Homo sapiens: one gene and its partner. The protein of the gene in region 1 purifies or fractionates together with the protein of each later gene. This does not show direct contact. Each region holds a gene or a part of one and is shown on either strand. Other genes may lie near its edges.

Region 1 (2,563 bases):
CGCCCAGCCGCACAGCCACTTGGTGCTCACCACGCGCTTCCTCTTCGGACTGCTGAGCGCGGAGCGGATGCGCGACATCGAGCGCCACTTCGGCTGCATGGTTTCAGAGCGTGTGAAGCAGGAGGCCCTGCGGTGGGTGCAGGGACAGGGACAGGGCTGCCCCGGAGTGGCACCAGAGGTGACCGAGGGGGCCAAAGGGCTCGAGGACACCGAAGAGCCAGAGGAGGAGGAGGAGGGAGAGGAGCCCAACTACCCACTGGAGTTGCTGTACTGCCTGTACGAGACGCAGGAGGACGCGTTTGTGCGCCAAGCCCTGTGCCGGTTCCCGGAGCTGGCGCTGCAGCGAGTGCGCTTCTGCCGCATGGACGTGGCTGTTCTGAGCTACTGCGTGAGGTGCTGCCCTGCTGGACAGGCACTGCGGCTGATCAGCTGCAGATTGGTTGCTGCGCAGGAGAAGAAGAAGAAGAGCCTGGGGAAGCGGCTCCAGGCCAGCCTGGGTGGCGGCAGGTGCGTCTCCAGGGCAGAGATACTCTCTTGTGTGTGAGGTGTGTGTGCCGGTGCAAACCTGTGCACCTCAGTGTCCATCTGGCATGGGGCGCACCTCCAGACCAGACCCTGGCTCCCCAGATGGGGAGGCTTTGACCACCTCCTTGCAAGGCAACCACTGAATTCCTATCTTCTTCCCCAGGGTGTCCTCACCATGCCCACCGTCAGCCACCCACAACCTATGAAAACTTCCTAGTATGGCCCTACAGCTCTGGCCCAGCCCTTCTTCCCATTTTACTTTCTGACAATAAGCTCTGGAACACACGATGCCCTCTGTCCAGAGCCTCTGCACTTGCCCTTCCCTCCACCTAGAATATTCTGTTTGCTGCCTGTCCTGCAAGTCTGCCCTGGCTCCCCCAGCTGGCTGGGGACCCAACTGGCTCCAGAAGTACCCTTTCGACCACCCTGCTGTGACATCTGCCCCACACCTCCACCAGACCCTCGGCTCCTCCAGGGCAAGGCTTTTGCCAGAGTTCCTTTGAATATAGCTCCAATTCAGCCCCTGCCCAGGGGCTTGGCATCTGTTGAGAGGATGAATGTCACGGTGTTGGCAGGGGCTGGGCCTGGGGACCCAAAGACCCATGTAGAGGATGTGGGTGATACCGTCCCACTGACCTCACTCAGACACCCCAGTGGGATGATGCCTGGGCCACAGATGAGTGGTTTTGCTCTGGGTTTGGTTGGGGGAGTGTGAAGGGGGTGGCTCAGCAAGGAGGTGAGGAGGAGGGGCAGCTCTGAGACCCCAGGACTACAGATAGACAGGAGTCCTTTCCGGCAGGCACTGTGAGGAGCAGGGTGGGCTTCACCTTCCTCTCTCTCCCAGCAGTTCTCAAGGCACCACAAAACAACTGCCAGCCTCCCTTCTTCATCCACTCTTTCAGGCAATGACTGACCCACTGTGCCATCTGAGCAGCCTCACGTGAGTGGCCACACCCCCAGCTCTTCCCACGGAGCGGGCTGAGAGCAGGATGCCCTGGGCAGAGACGGAAGTATGACCTAGGAAAGAAGGCTGAGGGGTCAGACCAGAGCCTGAGGCCTGTGGGTGCTGGAGATGGCAGGCTCTGCCCACACAGAGCAGAGGGAGGAGGGGATGAGGGTCTGGGGCTTCATTACCAGGTTAGGTACTGGTAGGAAAAGGTTGGTCCTGGTGAGTGGAAAGCAGCTAAGCACACTGAGGGAGGGATTAAAGAAGACAAGAGTGTATTTTCCTTCTGAAGGGAGGCTGCCGTTGGAAACTGCTGGGTTCTCAGAAGCAGTGGAGGAAGGTGTTCAAGCGCAGGCTCCAAGGTCAGGCTGTCTGCAAATGCTAGCCGGCTTCTGCGTGCCCAGTAGCAAGTCCATCTGTCCGAGCTTCCATTTCCTCCCCTGTGAAATGGAGCCAGTAGATCCAGAGAGTTGGGGTGAGATTTAATGTGGCTACACATGTACAGTTCTTTTTTTTTTTTTTTTTTTTGAGACGGAGCCTCGCTCTGTCGCCCAGGCTGGAGTGCAGTGGTGTGATCTCAGCTCACTGCAAGCTCCGCCTCCCGGGTTCACGCCATTCTCCTGCCTCAGCCTACTGAGTAGCTGGGACTACAGGTGCCCGCCACTACGCCCGGCTAATTGTTTGTATTTTTAGTAGAGACAGGGTTTCACCGGGTTAGCCAGGATAGTCTCGATCTCCTGACCTCGTGATCCACCCGCCTCTGCCTCCCAAAGTGCTGGGATCACAGGCATGAGCCACCGCGCCCGGCCACATGTACAGTTCTTACATGGCAATAACTTGCCAGTCACTCTTAGCTACCACCAAGTGAGCAGAAAGGAAGAGGAAATCTAGGAACTAGTACTGATGGTGAAACAGGTCCATCCTACGTTGATGGCAACTCGGCAAATTAGCTTGATATGGGGGTGGGGGATTTGGCAATCTGGAGATAAACATAAGAACCAAAAAGGTGATCACATTTGGCCCAGCAATTCTGCTGGTAAAGTAAGATGTTCAGCACACCATTATTTATAATGGAAAAAAAAAAAAGGAGAA
Region 2 (3,822 bases), on another chromosome or scaffold:
TAGGTTTTAGGACACTAGAGTAAAAGAGAGCTGTTGCACACATGCTCTTCACCCTACTTTTGTGTCCTTTTTTCCATCCTACAACTTGGGTTGTGAGTATGATGGCTGGAACTTTAGTGGCTCTCTTGGATCCCAGGGGTAATTGAGGGGTGGCTGGAAGGAATCTGTGATTTTCTGGAGTTTCCATACACAAACAAGACCTGGATTTTCTGGGCTTCCCAGACTTCCACATCTAGACTTGCTTTAAATGGGAGAGAAATAAACTTGTTTCAGCCACTGTCATTTTGGGCTATTTTATAGAACTTAATCTAATCTTCAAGGGTACATGAATTGCTTTTCCTTAAAAAAAAAATCAGCCATAAAATCATCTTCTTTTTTCTTTTGTTCCCCACATTATTTAGTTGGAGCTCTGTAACTTTTTTTTTTTTTTTTTTTGAGACAAGGTCTTGCTCTGTCACTTAGGCTGGAATTCAGTGGCATGACCATGGCTCACTGCAGCCTTGCCCTCCTAGGCTCAAGCAATCCTCGTCTCAGCCTCCTGAGTAGCTGAAACTAAGGCACATGCCACCATGCCCAGCTAATTTCTTTTCTTTTAGAGATGGGAGCCTTGCCCAGGCTAGTCTCAAACTCCTAGCCTCAAGTGATCCTCCCATCTCAGCCTCCCAAAGTGACAGGATTACAGGTGTGAGCCACCATGCCTGGCTGCTCTGTAAGTGTCTGAATTTCATTTTGTATTTATCAGTCTGTTTAGATTTTCTTTCCCTTCTTGGGTCAGTTAGGCCATTGGTTTCTTTTTAAAGGTTTTCAAATTTATTTGCATCTAATTCTTCAAATTACTCTCAAAATTATTCCAGTATATATTCTTTTGTTCCTATTTTCTTCTGTATTCTTTATTAAAATAGCTAATGATTTATCTAGCAGGACTTATATTCTTTCCATAACTTTCCTGCACCCCAATTAATCTCCAATTTTATATTTCTTCTGGCCTTCCTTATAGTTTCCACAGGTTTATTTTATTCATTTTTTAAAACTTTTATTTAATTGTTTATTTTATTATCATTCTTTCTTATTCAGCAATCTAAGTGCTTAGGGATATAGAATTTCCTCTAAGCAGCATATGCTAGGCTTTAACAATGTTAGGGAGGCCTCCCCTTTCTGGGGAAGACCACACTTACATTAACACAGGACTGTGGGATGCCAAGAGGTAGAGAAGAGCTTATGAATATCCAGATTACATCTTCACTGATCCTGCACAAAGGTGGGGTTCCTCGGTTACCCACTGGGTCCTATTACCCAAGTCTGGGTCAGCATACCGAGACTACGGGTATATAGAACAAGTGCAACTGGCGATAATCCTTCTGTTGGGGAGAAAAATCTTTTTTTTCTATTCATCTTAGGTTCTCCATCTGTGGCCCTATCAAGTAGACTAACAAAAGACAGATTGACAAGACAGAAACAAAGCATGTGCATTGTACAAACACAGGGGAGTACTGAGATGAATACTCAAAAGAGGATTTAGAACTTGGGCTTATATAGCATTTTAAGAAAAGAATACATTTTTTAAGTGACAAGGAAGACGAAAAGGACTTTGAGTTTCTAGTGCAGTAAATTGTGGGAAGGCAACTTTTTCTTTCCCTTTTTTTTTTTTTTTTTTTAAAAAAAAAGACTTCTCTGGTGCTATGTCCAGGCTGATAAGAGTCTAAAGTCTCTGGTGACTAACTTTTGTTCTTCCCCGAGTAAGAAGACACCTTCACAATTTCATATCCTGCTTTTAGGCAAATAGGGAGAGGGCAGAGGTGTTTGTTTGTTTTTAATCTATTTTTTTTCTCAATTGTCTTCAACTCAAAATACTTCTTATGCCAAAGATGGCATATTCTGCTACCCTTCACTTACTACTTACAACCCAGCCTCTATCATCATAATTAGAACTTCTGACCCTGGGGAACATGGGCAATAGTTTGAACTCTTTTATATCTCCCTTAGGCAGAGATGGAGGCCCAGCCATGCCTCTGACATCTAGACACAACTGTTGCTTCATTTCTCCTATTCTCAGAGGTGATGTTGTAGGACTTCAACAAATATCAGTAAACATTAATTTTTTTTTTCCTTGAGGCACAGCATGATCTTGGCTTACTGCAGCTGCTGCAGGCTCAAGCAATTCTCCTGCCTTGGCCTCACGAGTAGCTGGGTTACAGGCCCCTACCACCATGCCCGGCTAATTTTTGTATTTTTAGTAGAGACAGGGTTTCACCATGTTGGCCAGGCTGGTGTTGAACTCCTGACCTCAAGTGATCCACCTGCCTCAGCCTCACATAGTTCTGGGATTACAGGCGTGAGCCACCATGCCTGGCCATCAATTTTTATGTCAACTCTAAATTATAACATTTAGCAATTTTGTGACTTTTTATGGTCATCATTAATGTTGTTTATGTTTTAGTTGTAGTCCTGTCATTACTCACTCGGGTATGGTAATTTGGTCTTTTTCAAAATGAAGTTAAGGTCTATTTGCTCTTCTCTGAATCATAATAAGAACTGCCAACAGCCATTTCAGCAATAACTATTTACTGAGATTTTAAAATATTTCAAGGTAATTGGTCCTAGCAGACTGGAAAATACCAAATTCTTTTCCAGAACTGAATCCCCCATCAAAGTTCAATTTTACTCATAATTCCCTTTTCATTTGAAGCATCTCATTGTAAGCCAGTCTTAACCCTTCTCTCACACTTTGCTTGGCTGTTTCTCAGGTAGAACTCAGTAAGTCTGGTAGCCTCCAGGACTGCCGCTTAGATTATTAAACAACATGTCAGTGGTTGGAAGAGTCAATGTTATTTTGATTTTTCTGTTTTGTTTTGTTTTAAATGCAGTTGGCGGATAATTGCAGCTTTCTTTCATTCCCTACATGAGTTCAAATGGCAGCAAACAAACTAGGAGAACGCAGACCTTCTGACTTGTGGGTACCCCTACTCATCACCTGAAGACCCTTGGAAATCAAAGCCCTGACCCATTAAAGACGGATGGAGACAGCAACATACGATCATCACTATTATCTTGCTTTGCCCCAGTCCAGGTTAACCATCTGTGGTATTTTTAGTTGCTAAGTCCATATATTCAACATAAATCAATTATATATCCACTAAAATCTCAGCACTAGTCTAACTACTAAGGAAATGACAGCGAAGAAAACAGACCAAACGTCTGCCCTTATGGGATTTATATTATTTTCTCTGTGCTGGTTAAACCAAGGAGCTTCTGCTCTTTTCCTTAGTCACCTGGGGGAGGCAGAAACAAAGGAGAATATTGATAAACCTGGAAATAGGGCCGGAGAGTATCAGAGAAGGAAGCCTTCGGGAAAGTAAAGATGTGGCAGCCAGTATTCCCGTTATAAAAGGATACAACTCCGGCCTCATAGTCCAGAAAAATTCCCACAAGCAGGGGCTGCTCATGCAGATGAAGGGAAGTTGGGGGAGAAGTAAGTGCTACATAGCCTTTCTTTTTGCACAGCCTGAGGGTCCAGAATCCAGACTGAGGCTCTTGCTTCATGCCAGTGCCCCTCTGCACATTTTCCATACAAACTCCTAAATCCCATCCGGTTCCTTCGCCAACATCCACTTCAAAGTAACGTCTTCCTGAGGTGAAGCCTTCACAACCCAAGACACAGGGGAAGGCAGTAAATCTCCTGGAAGATGTGTCCTGATTCTCCTGGGTGTATCCACGAGTCACTTGTCTCCGATCCTCAGAGAGAATTAGTTCGTGATGAGCTGTATCTGGATCCAGAGTCACACTAACTGCAAAACAAAACAAAACAAACAAAAATAATTTTGT

Evidence for each region.
Region 2: the proteins of NLRP6 (region 1) and TRIM38 purify together in Homo sapiens (affinity purification with western blotting, with the first as the bait; one study listed by BioGRID). This does not show direct contact.

What each region holds. Positions count from the first base shown.
Region 1 is NC_000011.10:281,333-283,895, forward strand, and holds part of NLRP6 (NACHT, LRR and PYD domains-containing protein 6), read left to right. Parts: coding exon 1-507; intron 508-1,369; coding exon of another isoform or gene 1,370-1,372; coding exon 1,373-1,465; exon of another isoform or gene 1,466-1,535; intron 1,536-2,563.
Region 2 is NC_000006.12:25,983,127-25,986,948, reverse strand, and holds part of TRIM38 (E3 ubiquitin-protein ligase TRIM38), read right to left. Parts: intron 3,786-3,822; coding exon 3,262-3,785; 3' UTR 1-3,261. UniProt on the Homo sapiens protein: E3 ubiquitin-protein and E3 SUMO-protein ligase that acts as a regulator of innate immunity. Acts as a negative regulator of type I interferon IFN-beta production by catalyzing 'Lys-48'-linked polyubiquitination of AZI2/NAP1, leading to its degradation.